Linked DNA regions of Homo sapiens. The protein of the gene in region 4 purifies or fractionates together with the protein of the main gene of each other region. This does not show direct contact. Each region holds a gene or a part of one and is shown on either strand. Other genes may lie near its edges.

Region 1 (3,245 bases), on a different chromosome or scaffold from region 4:
ACACGCTGGACACGCCCCCTTGTGCCCCCCACAGGCTTCAGCCCTTTCTCCTCCACCTGGCGCCAGGGCCATGAGAAACAAGGGGGAGACCAGGAGGCCATGAGGCTCTGCGTGTGGATCCCTGGACCGAGGCCACCAAGCTGTCCACGTGGACTGAACAGGCCGTGCTGGACCGTCGGGCTCGCTCAAGCAGCCAGGGCACAGGAGGCACCATGTGCCCCGAAACCTGGCGGGAAGGGCCGTAGGCCTGCTGCACCTCCCAGCAGCCACGAGGGTCTCGTGGAACAGAAGGAACGAAGACCTCCTGGACTACACGAGCCACCAGACGCCAGGGCTTCAGCCCGGCCGCGCTGCCCCGTGCACCGGAGGCTCCGGCCTGGCCGCGCTGTCCCGTGCACCAGAGGTGCGGTGGGCTTGGTTTTCCCACCTGCGCAGTAGGAGGAAGGGGAGGAAACCCCCCCCCGAGGGCTGGCACTGCAACCGGCCGTGTGGGGCAGGGAGACCTTATTTACACTTTATTGACAGACACAACACGTATGTATGTGCGTCGCAGCACAGGCCCTGTGGGCAAGACCGGACGCTCATGATCCCAGGGATAAAAAATCTGTCCGCGAGCGGGCAGGGGGCCCGGGCAGGGGGAGTGCGCTTCCCAGGGCACCATTCGCTTAAAGTGTGTTAATGACTTGTCCAGCAAGTTTCTTTACCTTCCCACACCCCTCTTCTCAACGTCCCCCCAGAGTCCTCAGGGGGGCCTTCGACCTGCAAAAGCCTCACAGGAGTGCGAGGGGCCCCAGCTCCCAGGGCGGCCGATGGAGCCTCACACGGTCACCTTCTCCATCACGCTTTCAGCCACGTGGACTTCGTCTGCCTGGACGGTGACAGCTGCTGACTGGCCGCATATGTGCTGGTGATCCTTCCAGTCCTGGAAGGGAGGACACACCCATGTCAGCAGGGTCAGTGGGTGGAGCAGGGTCTGGGCAGGGTCCCCAAGGCAGACCCCAGAGGGTGCAGCCCTCTGTAACCTCACCTGGAGGTGCTGAGAATGCCCTCCCCAGCCCCCGTGCGCCCAAACTCTGGTGGGCTCTGCTCCAATACAGCCTTCCCCACACTCTCTTGGTTTGAGGAATTGGATCAAAAGGCAAACAACAGGCAGGGCACGGTGGCTCACGCCTGTAATCCCAACACTTTGGGAGGCCCAGGAGGGTGGATCCCCTGAGGTCAGGAGTTCGAGACCAGCCTGGCCAACATGGTGAAACCCCGTATCTACTAAAAATACAAAAATTAGCTGGGCATGGTGGCAGGCACCTCTAATCCCAGCTACTCGGGAAGCTGAGGCAGGAGAACTGCTCAGCCCTGGGAGGCAGAGGTTGCAGGGAGCCGAGATGGTGCCACTGCACTCCAGCCCGGGTGACAGAACAACTCCATATCAAAAAAAAAAAAAAAAAAAGTCAAACAACAAACCAGGGTAAGACTCTCCAAACCAGTTGTTTTGTGTTAGGGATGTAAACAAAAAATATCACACATGCAGAAAAACATTTAAATATGTAAATATTACATATGTAAATTACGATCAAGTTCTGTGGGGGTTTTTTTGTTGTTTTTCGGACAGAGTTTCGCTCTTGTTTCCCAGGCTGGAGTGTAACGCGCAATCTCGGCTCACCACGACCTCTGCCTCCTGGGTTCAAGCAATTCTCTTGCCTCAGCCTCCCTAGCAGCTGGGATTACAGGTGCACGCCACCACACCTGGCTAATGTTTTGCATTTTTAGTAGAGACAGGGTTTCACCATGTTGGTCAGGCTGGTCTCGAACTCCTGACCTCAGGGGATCTGCCCGCCTCGGCCTCCCAAAGTGCTGGGATGACAGGTGTGAGCCACTGCGCCCCGCCCCAGTTCTGTTTTTAATGGCAAAGATGAAAAAGCAAACTGGAACCAGCCCGTGGCTGCAGAGAAAGGAGGTGGGGGATGGTGCCTGGGAGAAGCCACAGCTCCTGTGAGGTCAGCACACAGAACCAGGCTCTGCCTCCCTGCTACGTCGAGCACCTCGGAATGGAGCAGAGCTCTAGAGGAAGCGCCAGGTGCTGAAGCTGAGACGGCCTCGTCAGACAGAGGCAGCTCCGTGCACGGGGGCGTGATAGGTACGTATATGACACACAGAGCAGAAATAAATGCTTCCAAATGGTGACAGAGTTATTCCCTAGAGAGCAGAATTCCAGCTGATTATAATAAAAGAGCAAAATTAGGCCGGGCGCAGTGGTTCACGGCTGTAATCCCATCATGTTGGGAGGCCGAGGTGGGCAGATCACCTGAGGCCAGGAGCTCGAGACCAGCCTGCCCAACATGGCAAAACCCCATCTCTACTAAAAATACAAAAACTAGCCGCCTGTGGTCATGCGCACCTGCAATCTCAGCTACTTGGGAGGCTGAGGCACAAGAATCACTTGAACCTGGGAGGCAGAGGTTGCAGTAAGCCAAGATTGTGCCACGGCACTCCAGCCCGGGCGACAGAGTGAGACTACGTCTCAAAAAAAAAAAAAAAAAAAAAATTAAAATTACCTGGTAATAGACTATAAATCTACATAGCATGAAAGCACATACATCAGCAAACTGCAGCATCGGGTGCAGACCCACCGCCCGCCCCTCCCGGGCCTCCACTCTGGGGCAACCAGGAAGGGTTCCGGTTCCTGCCGAGACTCTGTGTGGGGTGAGGGGCCTGCACCCCTCATGGGAGCTGCCCCCCGTGAGAGGATGTGGGCGGCGGACAAGGCCCCCAGGAGTTCTAGATGCTTCCTTCTCTGGTCTACAGGTTTGAGCCACTCCCTGGGGCCTGTGCAGATGGAGGGAGAGAGGGCGCACATCAGTGTTGACTCTGAGCTACAGAAGCTTCCATCAGGTTCTTCCAGCAAAGAGGCAAAGGCCCAGGGTTGACTTTTAAAATCAGAACTACTCAGTTCTTTTTTAAAGCAAATTTTTCCATCTTAAACATCAATGTGATGCTTCTTACAGTATAATGCTAAAACACTTTTGAAAAAAAAATCATTATCTGAAAAGCCAGAATTAGAAGTTAGCGTTTCAGTTTTTGAAAAACGGAAAAAAATGGTTAAATTCACAAGAAGCTAACAATGAAAGTGCCTGATACAAATAAATGAGAAAAGCCAACATCACAGACTGTAAAAACAATGACTTCGGGAGGTTGAGGTCACTTGAGGTCAGGGGTTGGAGACCAGCCTGAGCAACATAGCAAAACCC
Region 2 (3,500 bases), on a different chromosome or scaffold from region 4:
GAAAAGCAGAGCTTACTTGTTGATGTTTGCAAGATAAATATCGGCTACATGACCCCCACTGGGACAGCTGGCCCCCGCTCTGGCTGTCACCTTTTCTTCAGGTGGCTCAGAAATGACCTCAATCTCAGACTTGGGGCTGGACCTCTCCACGACACCGTCCTCGCTGGGGGAGAAGGGGCAGGCAGGCAGGGAGGAGGGAAAACAACAACAACACAAAAAGCAGCGTTAAATCGGCAAGATGGCCCCCCGACATACACGCGACCCCACACAGCTCTGAGGCAGCAGCGACACCTGGCTGGACTAGTTCTGTGAGCAGAGGCAAGGAAACCTAAGGGCCTTTGAAGGGTCGTTTAAATAAAAATAAATAATCCGCTGAGTTCTGCGGGCTCCTCAGCTCCTCAGGAAAGCGTGGCTAGGGGACACCTGGATTCGAGGCATCTGCCTTCTACCCCATGCTGCTTCCTGGGGAGGCCGTGCTGGGGCGGCCTCCTGGAGAAGGAGGCGGCAAGTCCAGGTTGTGGTTTATCGGCTGAGGTCCTGAGCACTGCCGGGTAAGGACAGTCAACTGTGTGGTGGCTCTGGAGACGGCGGCGTCGTGGCAGGACACCGCCACACACTGTCGTAGCGCCTCTAGCCCCGCTCAGAGCATCCAAGCCGGTCCCAGGTCTCTCCACTGCTCTCCTGGCCCCTCTGGCTACTGATGACAAAGAAAGCCCCTTCTCCCCCACAATTCATCTTCTCTTGATCCTGTGGTGAAGTCATAATGCTAAATTTGGGAGGGTCCTGTCCACGCACAGATTGCCACCAGGTTTGCGATGCTATCAACAGAGGGAGGATTTCCCTGCAGAACGAGCCGGGAAGAGGCTGGGAGGGTGCAGACTCACTCAGGATATCAACCTTTAAAAAATAATATTAAGGGAAGGACTAAAAACACTGACAGCATCGTATCCAAGGGAGGGGAGCTGGGGACAGAGACAGGGCAAACGGACAGGGGGCAGGCTTGGGTGGGCCCACGGGACAACTGCTTCAAAGTGTGAGAATCAACCAACAGCCTATCAGATGAGATCTCTCTGGGACCAGTTCAGGTTTCCTTTGTTCCTTGACATCCTTTTCCCTCCTTCCCCCATCTTACCCTATATCAACCTCATCTCGGTTAAATGAACTAGGTCACTTCCATAAGGCTGCTTAAGCCGGATTTCTCCTAGAAAACCAGTCATTTTAATTTGCAAGTGGAAGAGTGGCTCAACAGGTTGGGGTGAGCATAGTTGTTTAAAAAAAAAAGAGAGTAACAAAAATGTTTTCCCAGCCTGATCTTTCGAGAAAAGAAATATAGGTGGTCAAATAAAAACCCCTTGTTATCACTCATCAGGTATAAATATGGATGAGTGCTGGCTGGCTGGCAGGTTTCTAAAATGACTGGATTAGGGGGTGATTTGCAGGGGGCACAGATAGTGGAGAGATTTAAAAAAATTCTCCACTGAGTGCAGGGAGTGGGGCGGGGGGTGGGGGGGGTGCTCTTCAAGGAACTGTGTGAGCCTCAGGACTGCACTGGACCCCCCAGGGGTTGGCCTCCCTCATAGTCCTATGGCTCCAGAAATGAAGTCTCACTCCCATAGAGCAGCTGGGGACCACCCCCAAAGATGCCATGGGCCCAACGTACGTGTCTTGGACCACGATGTACTGATGGGGGATGAGTCCGTCGATGCCATTGTGCCGGCCTTCCCACCAGTCGTCGGAAGCCCGCTGGTAAAGCAGCAGGGATGCTCCCTTCTTAAAGGATAGCTCTCGGGCTGTCCGGCCCACGTAGTCAAACTTGGCAATGGCCTCGATGGGCTCACATTCTGAGAAGGGTGGAAAAGAAGTAAACACATGTTCTTGGGACCTGCAGACTCAGGAAACTGGGTGGAAAAGCTGAATTAGCTGAACTTACAGTGGTAGGAAATTACTTAGTGGGAAAACGAAGCCATGGATGATCTATAAAGCAAGTAATTCTCACGCAGACTATACCATTATCCTGAAAGCACTGGTATCACCTTTTACCTGCCTTTGCTCACACTGTTCCCTCCACCAGGAATCTTCTTCTCTCTTATCTGCCTGATGAAGCACATCAAAACACAACTCAAGCATCCCATTTTTTTTTTTTTTTTTTTTTTTTGGGATGGAGTCTTACTCTGTCGCTCAGGCTGGAGTGCAGTGGCTCGATCTTGGCTCACTGCAACCTCTGCCTCCCGGGTTTACGCGATTCTCCTGCCTCAGCCTCCCAAGTAGCTGGGACTACAGACGTGTGCCACCACGCCCAGCTAATTTTTTGTATTATTAATAGACGGGGTTTCACCATGTTAGCCAGGATGGTCTTGATCTCCTGACCTCGTGATCTGCCTGCCTCGGCCTCCCAAAGTGCTGGGATTACAGGCGTGAGCCACGCGCCCGACCGCATCCCCTGCTTTCTACAGTAACTTCTTTGGTGTTTCCAAAGATCTTCATGCCTTGACGTCTATCATCAAACTTGCCATACTATATTTTTAAGCATTATTTCTTTTCTAATTATATAATAATTCCAGTAATTGTAGAAAATGTATCATACATTTTTTAGAATACATACATGTATTCTAAATATTTTATGTTATCCATTCCCCCTAGTAAGTAGAATGTGAGCTTTCTGTCTCTCTATAAAGAGAAAATAACTTGCTCAATCAACTTTCCAAGGAGCAAAATATGAAAATATATTTTGTGACCAACCTATGAAAAAAATGCACATGAAAGTAATCTAAAAAAGTAAAAGGGGTCTACGAATGCAATCTATCTTTATTTTTGTGTGGGCTTCTGTCTCCTCATCTGTAACATGGAGATTAATAATCGTGTCTTTTTCATGAAGTTGTTATGAAGAGTCAATGAATTACAATTTGTAAAAGTGCTTAGAACAGTGTCCCGCCCATAGTAAGTGGTATGTGTGCATGACTTATTGTTATCATTATCTTCGTCTGTGCTAGGCTGCAGGTAGAGATCAAAGAGCAAAGAGAAGGCTCCCAGAAAGCTGGAACCTGAGATGAAAGTCGGCTATTCTGGGAAGCAGAGAGAAAGGCTGCTTAAAAATAAGACCATGCCTAGATGGCCCTAGCTGGTGGGTCTGCTCCTGCACAGGAGGGGTTGGAGATTTCACTATAGGAGGCTGGTCAGAGAAGGCCTGTCTAAATATACCCACCTCAGTTAGTTCTCTACAGCCTCGGGTACGTTACTCGACCTCCCTGACCTGCATTTTCTCAACTGTAAAATAGCGGCCATATCTTTTTCACTACAGATTAAGAGATAACATATATAAAGCCTCTAGCAGAGCTGGCCACGAGGTAGGCTCTAACCCACTACTCATTTTCCTAGTTCACCTACTCCCCTCCTCGAATGTAGCAAATGATCATATGGATCCTTATGACATCAGGATCTAAATAAGCAGTCCTATTTTTTTTTTTTCTCCTTTGAAAGCTGGCCTAGAATTGCAGAATTCC
Region 3 (3,500 bases), on a different chromosome or scaffold from region 4:
AAAGAAACGCAAACAAATATGTATAAGGCATAGCCATTACCATACAATATTGGAGAAAAGACAGTGCGTCTATAAATATTTGCCACATCACACAGAAAGTGATAGGTGCTATACGGATTATAAAAGCTGGGGGCTCCACTCATATGCAGGAGCATACATTATAAACTACCATAGCCTTTTTGGAAAACGTTATAATATGTTTAAAGAATCATCAAACTTCTCACATCCTTTCACCGGGCCATCCTAGTCTTGGGAATTCACTCTAAGAAAGCAGATACGTAAATACACAGGGATATTCCCTACAGTATTAAATAGGCTAGCAAAAACAAAACTGGAAATATTCTAAATCTCCATCACTAGTAATCTATAGTTGCAAATGTCGATACAACATGAATATAACCATTAAAAATTACAATAAATGTATAAAACATGTAAAAAAAATTTCTAATATACTATTAAATGGAAAAACTATAAAATAACACGTAAGACATCAATTATGAAAAACACATATATGGGAATAGAATGAAACACTAACACACAAAACTGACAGTACTTGGAAAAAGTGATGGATTTATGCATGGTAACTCATATATGCTCTATCTCCCATTCCCCCAATTTTTCTGTATTATTATTATTCTAACGTATTTTAAATTTAAATTACTGATATTTTATCTATCCCAGCAGAAACACAAAGGATATATGGACCATGGCATGACTTATAATAGCAAAATACTGAAAATAACCCAAATATCCATCAATAAGAAATAGCTGAAAATACTTCACCTAATAAAGTATTATAAAACTGTAAAGAGATATTTTTTAAAAACCTCTATGTTTTACTAGAGTGATCATCAGGATATTTTACTAAGTAAATAAAACAAGTTATAAAACAGTATAAACAATAAACTATCATTTACGTAAAAAGGATGTAGGAGATAGAAATAGGTGTATAATCTATCAATAAGAAAGAGCTGAAAATCCTTCACCTAATGAAGTATTATAAAACTGTAAAAAGATATTTTTTAAAAACCTCTATGTTTTACTAGAGTGATCATCAGGATATTTTACTAAGAAAATAAAACAAGTTATAAAACAGTGTGAATAATAAACTGTCATTTATGTAAAAAGGATGTAGGAGACAGAAATAGGTGTATAAGCGAATGTGTATGTACGCAGAACATGTAAGTATATAGATACATATATTTTCTTGCATTTTGCCAATAGAAACACTGAAAAGATAAGCCAAACTCTAATAAAATGGTTACCTACAGGCAAAGAGAGGAAATGGGGAGCAGCTAAATTGGAAGTAAATGTCTGAATAGATTTTGCTCTCACTTTGGAATCATGTAAATGTTTTACACATACAAAACTTAAAATTAAATCAAAAGGGCATAGGAGTCAATAAAAATAGTTTTCTCAACAACTGGTCCTGCAACAACTGGATATCCACATGCAAAAGACCTAAATGTGAGAGCTAAGACTACAAAACTCTTAGAAGAAAACTGATGAAGATCTGCATAAACTTGGATTAAGCAATGGTTTCTTAAATATGATGCCAAAAGCACAAATAACAAAAGAAAACATAGATAAGCTAGACTTTGTTAAAATTAAAACCTTTTGGCATCAAAGGACACTATCAAGAAAAAGAAAGACAACCCACAGAGAGGCACAAAATATTGACAAATCCTATATCTGATAAAGGTCTAGTATGCAGATTATACAAAGAACTCATAATAACAATAAAAAGACAAACCGCCCAATTTAAAAATGTGCAAAGGATTTGAATATTTTAATTAATTTCTCCCAAGAAGATACATAAATGGCCAATAAGCAAATGAAAAGACATCCAACATCATTAGTCATTAAGAGAATGCAAATCAGCCGGGCGTAGTGGCTCACGCCTGTAATCCCCGCACTTTGGGAGGCCAAGGCAGGCGGATCACGAGGTCAGGAGATTGAGACCATCCTGGCTAACACGCTGAAACCCCATGTCTACTAAAAATACAAAAAAAAATTAGCAGGGTGGCCGGGCATGGTGGCTCATGCCTGTAATCCAAGCACTTTGGGAGGCGGAGGCGGGTGGATCACCAGAGGTCAGGAGTTCAACACCAGCCTGGCCAACATGGTGAAGCCTCGTCTCTACTAAAAAAAAACAAAAATTAGCCGGGCATGGTGGTGGGCACCTGTAATCCCAGCTACTCGGGAGGCTGAAGCAGGAGAATCACTTGCACCTGGGAGGTGGAGGTTGCAATGAGCCGAGATTGCGCTATTGCACTCCAGCCTGGGCAACAAGAGCGAAACTCTGTCTCACAAAAAAAGAAAATTAGCCAGGCATGGTAGCACCTGCCTGTAGTCCCAGCTACTCAGGAGGCTGAGGCAGAAGAATTGCTTGAATCCGGGAGGCAGAGGTTGCAGTGAGCTGAGATCGTGCCACTGTGCTCCAGTCTGGCAAGAGTGAGACTCTGTCTCAAAAAATATATATAAATTGAAAAAAAAAAATGCAAATCAACACCATACTCAGTTACCACTTCACACACACTAAAAAGGCTATACTTTTAAAAACAGACAATAATAAATCTTGGCAAGGATGTGGAGAAACTGAAACCCTCACCTATTGCTGGTGGGAATGTAAAGTAATGCAGCCACTGTGGAAAAGTTTGCCAGTTCCTCAAAAAGTTAAATATATAGAGTTACCATATGACCTAAGGATATATATCTAGGAGAATTTAAAATATATGTTCACACAAAAATTTGTGCATGGATATTTAAAGCAGCATTATTGATAATAACCACAAAGTATAAATAACCCATATGCCCATCAACTGATGATTTGATAAGACAAAGCCTCACAAATTTTGTTTTTCCTACTTCATCTGAGGTCCTTGGACTCCCACAGATGTTATGAATGAGCTCAGGAGTTAAATGGATTCTCTCAAAATTATATGCAATATGTATGTGCATTTTTGCTCTTCTCTTCTAAGAGGGTTCCTAGCTTTTATAATACTCTCAAATGGGTCTAAAACTCAAAAAAATTAAACAATACTGGTATCACGTAAGCATTACTTTAACAGTTTTAAAAAACACAACTGGTTAAATTTAGCAGAATCCAGTACTCTGAAATCTAACACATGTATCACTACATTGTTTGATTCAAACCAGCTAATTGTTTAATTTGTAGAAGCATAAACAAATATTTTTAAAACTACTCTAATTCATCATCCATTGCTTACTTGAATGGCTAATGTTTCTTGCTGCTGACGGGCTTCTTCTTGGGCCTTCTCTAATGCTGCAGAAAGTTCTTCTTTAGCTTTCATTTCACGGCTCAGAGCAGCTTCCTGTGCCTCACTATCCTTTGCAGCATTGGCTTTGTGAAGATCAGTAAGTTCTCTTAAAAAATTAGATTGAGTTTATAAATGTTGCCAGTGATCAGATAATAGAAAAAGTATTTCTTCAACATCCTACTCTGATAATTCATTCTAAATGGGTTGCATATTTGTTCA
Region 4 (3,500 bases):
GCCTCCTTCATGTCAGAAAGTCAGGGACAGCCAGCAGCTTTCCCTATGCCCTGTCCCTTAAGACCTGCTTTGTACAGTGCACAGGGCAATCATTCCTATTTTACAGAAAACACTGAGACCCACAGTTTGCCTTACAGGGAGGAGAGACTAGCTAAGTGAATGGCAAGTGAACCCAGAAGGTAAGACTCCAAGTTTATAGTGTGCTCTTGAGGCAACATAACATAGTGGTCAGGAAATTAAGCTTTAGAGGTAGTGTGTAGATTTAAATCTTAACTGCTCCGCTCATTAGCTGTGGAACTTAGAACATATTCCTTATCTTCCCTATGCCTCTATTTTCTAATCTGTAAAATGAGGATAATAATAGTACCTACCTCATAAGGCTATAGTGAGGGTTAAATGTGTTAATATATATAAAGTAAGTAGAACAAAGCCTGCTACATTATGTGTTCAATAACATTCATTCACTATTGCTCTTCTTTATCTTTTTTTTTTCTTTTCTTTTCTTTTCTTTAAGAGACACAGTCTTGCTCTGATGCCCAGGCTGAAATGCAGTGGCACAATCATAGCTCACTGCAGCTTTGAACTCCTGGGCTCAAGCGATCCTCCTGCCTCAGTCTTCCAAAGTGCTGGGATTACAGTCATGAGCAACTGCATCCAGCCCACGATTATTCTCCTGTTTATCCCACTTTAATGCCTTACCCACAGGGTGAGCCCCTGAAACCATGGTTGTACTGTGTGATCCTGGATCAAAACAGATCCTCACCCAAGATGAATCAGATTCTGATTCCTGCCTAAAAGACTCTAGTCATTCTCAACAAGTTTGTTGAGCCATTCCCAGAAAAGGAGAGCAAAGAAAAGAAAAACTTCCCTTTCCAAACACATGACAGAGAGTAGACAAACCAAAAACCCTCTCAGAATAAAGTAGAGAAATGCTGGAAAAATAGCCCAAGCATCCTTTTAAAAGTGTGGTTGTGGCTGGACACGGTGGCTCATACCTGTAATCCCAGCACTTTGGGAGGCTGAGGCAGGTGGATCACCCAAGGTCAGGAGTTTAAGACCAACCTGGCCAATAAGGTGAAACCCCGCCTCTACTAAAATACAAAAATTAGCTGGGCCTGGTGGTGGGAGCCTGTAATCCCAGTTACTCAGGAGGCTGAGGCAGGAGAATTGCTTGAAGCTGGGAGGTGGAGGCTGCAGTGAGCTGAGATCGCACCACTGCACTCCAGCCTGGGTGACAGGGCAAGACTCTGTCTCAAAAAAGAAAAAAAAAGAGGTTTTTATTTTTTGTTTTTTGAGACAGGGTCTCGCTCTGTCACCCAGGCTAGAATGCAGTGATGCAATCATAGCTCACTGCAGCCTCAAACTCCTAGGCTCAAGTGATCCTCTCACCTCACCCTCCCAAATAGTTGGGACTATAGGCCCATGCCATCATGTCTGGATAATTTTTTAATTTTTTGTAGAGATAGGGTCTTGCTATATTGCCCAAAACAGTCTCGAACTCCTGGGTTCAAGTGATCCTCCTGGCCTTGGCCTCCCAAAGTGCTGGGATTATAGGCATGAGCTACCATGCTCAGCCCAATGAATAAGCTTAATAGAGATATATATATATATATATATATATATATATATATATATATATATATATATATATATAGAACTCTACAGGCCAGGCACAGTACCGGGTCATGCTGGTAATCCAAGCAGTTTGGGAGGCCAAGGCAGCAGGATCACTTGAGCCCAGGAGTTCAAGGCTGCAGTGAGCTATGATTGCGCCACTGCATTTCAGCCTGGGCAATGGAGTGAGACTTTGTCTAAAAAAAGAGAAAGAAATAATAATGAAATTAAGACAAAGATACAAAAGAGTAGACCAAAAATACTAGAAGCTGGTTCTAAAGACTAACAGTCAAACCTGTGGCAACTTTGATCAAAACTAAGAACAACTTTATCTTAAGTAAACCCTTAAGAAAAAAGAGTTCTGTTTTCCAATCCATTGAATAAGGCTCACATAACCTTGATACCAAATCTGATGAGGACTGTACAAGAAATGAAATTCATAGACTAATCTCACTCCTGAGCATACAAGCAAAAATCCTAAAACAAAAATAAAAAATGCTTTACTGAGATTAGCAATCCAAATTCAGAAATTTTGTATTAATAATACAAGGGGATAGGAAAGGGTACATGTGGCTATAAAAGGGTAGCACAAGGAGTCCTAGTGATGGAACTGTTCTGTATTTTAATTGTGGTAGTAATCACATGAATCTATGCCTGTGATAAGATAGTTAAATAAATATACACCATTTGAGAGCAGTGATCTCTCCCACCTCCTTGGAACCCATGCTGGGACACTCTGCTCTCTTAGTTTACTTCCGTTTCATTAGCTGATTTCTTGGTCCCCGTTCGCTGGTTCCTTCTGTCTTCTCAATAGGAGGTGAAGTGCCCTAGGGCTCAGTCTTTGGACCGCTGCTCTTTCGTGTCTACACTCATTCACTTAGTGATGTCATCCTCTCCCACGGCTTTCAATACTATTTATACACTGATAAATCCCAAATTTATATCTCCAACCCAGCCCTCTCCCAACTCATATATGCAGCTACCTACTCAGCACCTTCACTTGGATGTCAAATAGGTATCTCAAACATAACATGCCCACAACAACTTAGCATGCCTGCTCTCCCCCACTCCCCTCCCTGCCTCCGCCAACCATCACTCCACATGCAGTCCTTCCCCCACCCAGTTCATGGCTGCTCCATCCTGCCAGTTGCTCAAATAAAAAAACTTCAGCATTATCCTGACACCTCCCCTCTTTCTTTCATAGCCTACATCTAGTCCATCAGCAAATCCTGTTGCCTCTTCAAAATATATGCAGAATCTAGCCACTTCTCACTAGCTTTGCCACCATTGCTTGGGTCCAGACCACACTTGTTTCCCACCTGGATTATTACAATGGCTTCCTAACTGGTCTCCCTGCTTTAACCTTTGCCGCCTATAATCACTTCTAAACATAGCAGCCAAAGTGTTTCTTTCTTTTTTTTTTGAGACAGAGTCTCGCACTGTTGCCCAGGCTGCAGTGCAGTGCGCAGTCTCAGCTCACTGCAACCTCCGCCTCCCGGGTTCAAGTGATTCTCCTGCCTCAGCCTCCCAAGTAGCTGAGAATACAGGCGCCCGCCACCATGCCCTGCTAATTTTTTTGTATTTTTAGTAGAGACGGGGTTTCACCGCGTTAGCCAGGATGGTCTGGAACTCCTGACCTCGTGATCCACCCGCCTCAGCCTCCTAAAGTGCTGGGATTACAGGCATGAGCCACTGCGCCCAGCCTCAACCTTCTTAATGAAGTCATTCCTGGTCACAGCACATGTAATTGCAACCCGTCCTATTCCCCTTTCTGTTTTATATTTCCCCATAGCACATATCACCTTCGGACATAACATAGATTTTGTTACTGTCCCTCTTCTGTGACAAGAATGTAGGCTTCATGAAAATAGGAATTTCTGTTTTGT

Evidence for each region. Proteins that work in one complex are often made in the same cells at the same time.
Region 1: the proteins of BSPRY (region 4) and DEAF1 purify together in Homo sapiens (affinity purification with mass spectrometry; 2 studies listed by BioGRID and IntAct, with this or other methods). This does not show direct contact.
Region 2: the proteins of BSPRY (region 4) and SRGAP2 purify together in Homo sapiens (affinity purification with mass spectrometry; one large-scale study listed by BioGRID and IntAct). This does not show direct contact.
Region 3: the proteins of BSPRY (region 4) and TMF1 purify together in Homo sapiens (affinity purification with mass spectrometry; 2 studies listed by BioGRID and IntAct, with this or other methods). This does not show direct contact.

The regions. Positions count from the first base shown.
Region 1 is NC_000011.10:643,733-646,977, forward strand, and holds the end of DEAF1 (deformed epidermal autoregulatory factor 1 homolog), read right to left. Parts: intron 2,824-3,245; coding exon of another isoform or gene 2,797-2,823; exon of another isoform or gene 2,600-2,796; intron 923-2,599; coding exon 818-922; 3' UTR 501-817; downstream 1-500. UniProt on the Homo sapiens protein: Transcription factor that binds to sequence with multiple copies of 5'-TTC[CG]G-3' present in its own promoter and that of the HNRPA2B1 gene. Down-regulates transcription of these genes.
Region 2 is NC_000001.11:206,451,541-206,455,040, reverse strand, and holds part of SRGAP2 (SLIT-ROBO Rho GTPase-activating protein 2), read right to left. Parts: intron 1,842-3,500; coding exon 1,661-1,841; intron 898-1,660; coding exon of another isoform or gene 885-897; exon of another isoform or gene 164-884; coding exon 17-163; exon of another isoform or gene 1-16. UniProt on the Homo sapiens protein: Postsynaptic RAC1 GTPase activating protein (GAP) that plays a key role in neuronal morphogenesis and migration mainly during development of the cerebral cortex. Regulates excitatory and inhibitory synapse maturation and density in cortical pyramidal neurons.
Region 3 is NC_000003.12:69,035,334-69,038,833, forward strand, and holds part of TMF1 (TATA element modulatory factor), read right to left. Parts: intron 3,388-3,500; coding exon 3,231-3,387; intron 1-3,230. UniProt on the Homo sapiens protein: Potential coactivator of the androgen receptor. Mediates STAT3 degradation. May play critical roles in two RAB6-dependent retrograde transport processes: one from endosomes to the Golgi and the other from the Golgi to the ER.
Region 4 is NC_000009.12:113,356,041-113,359,540, reverse strand, and holds part of BSPRY (B box and SPRY domain-containing protein), read right to left. Parts: intron 1-3,500. UniProt on the Homo sapiens protein: May regulate epithelial calcium transport by inhibiting TRPV5 activity.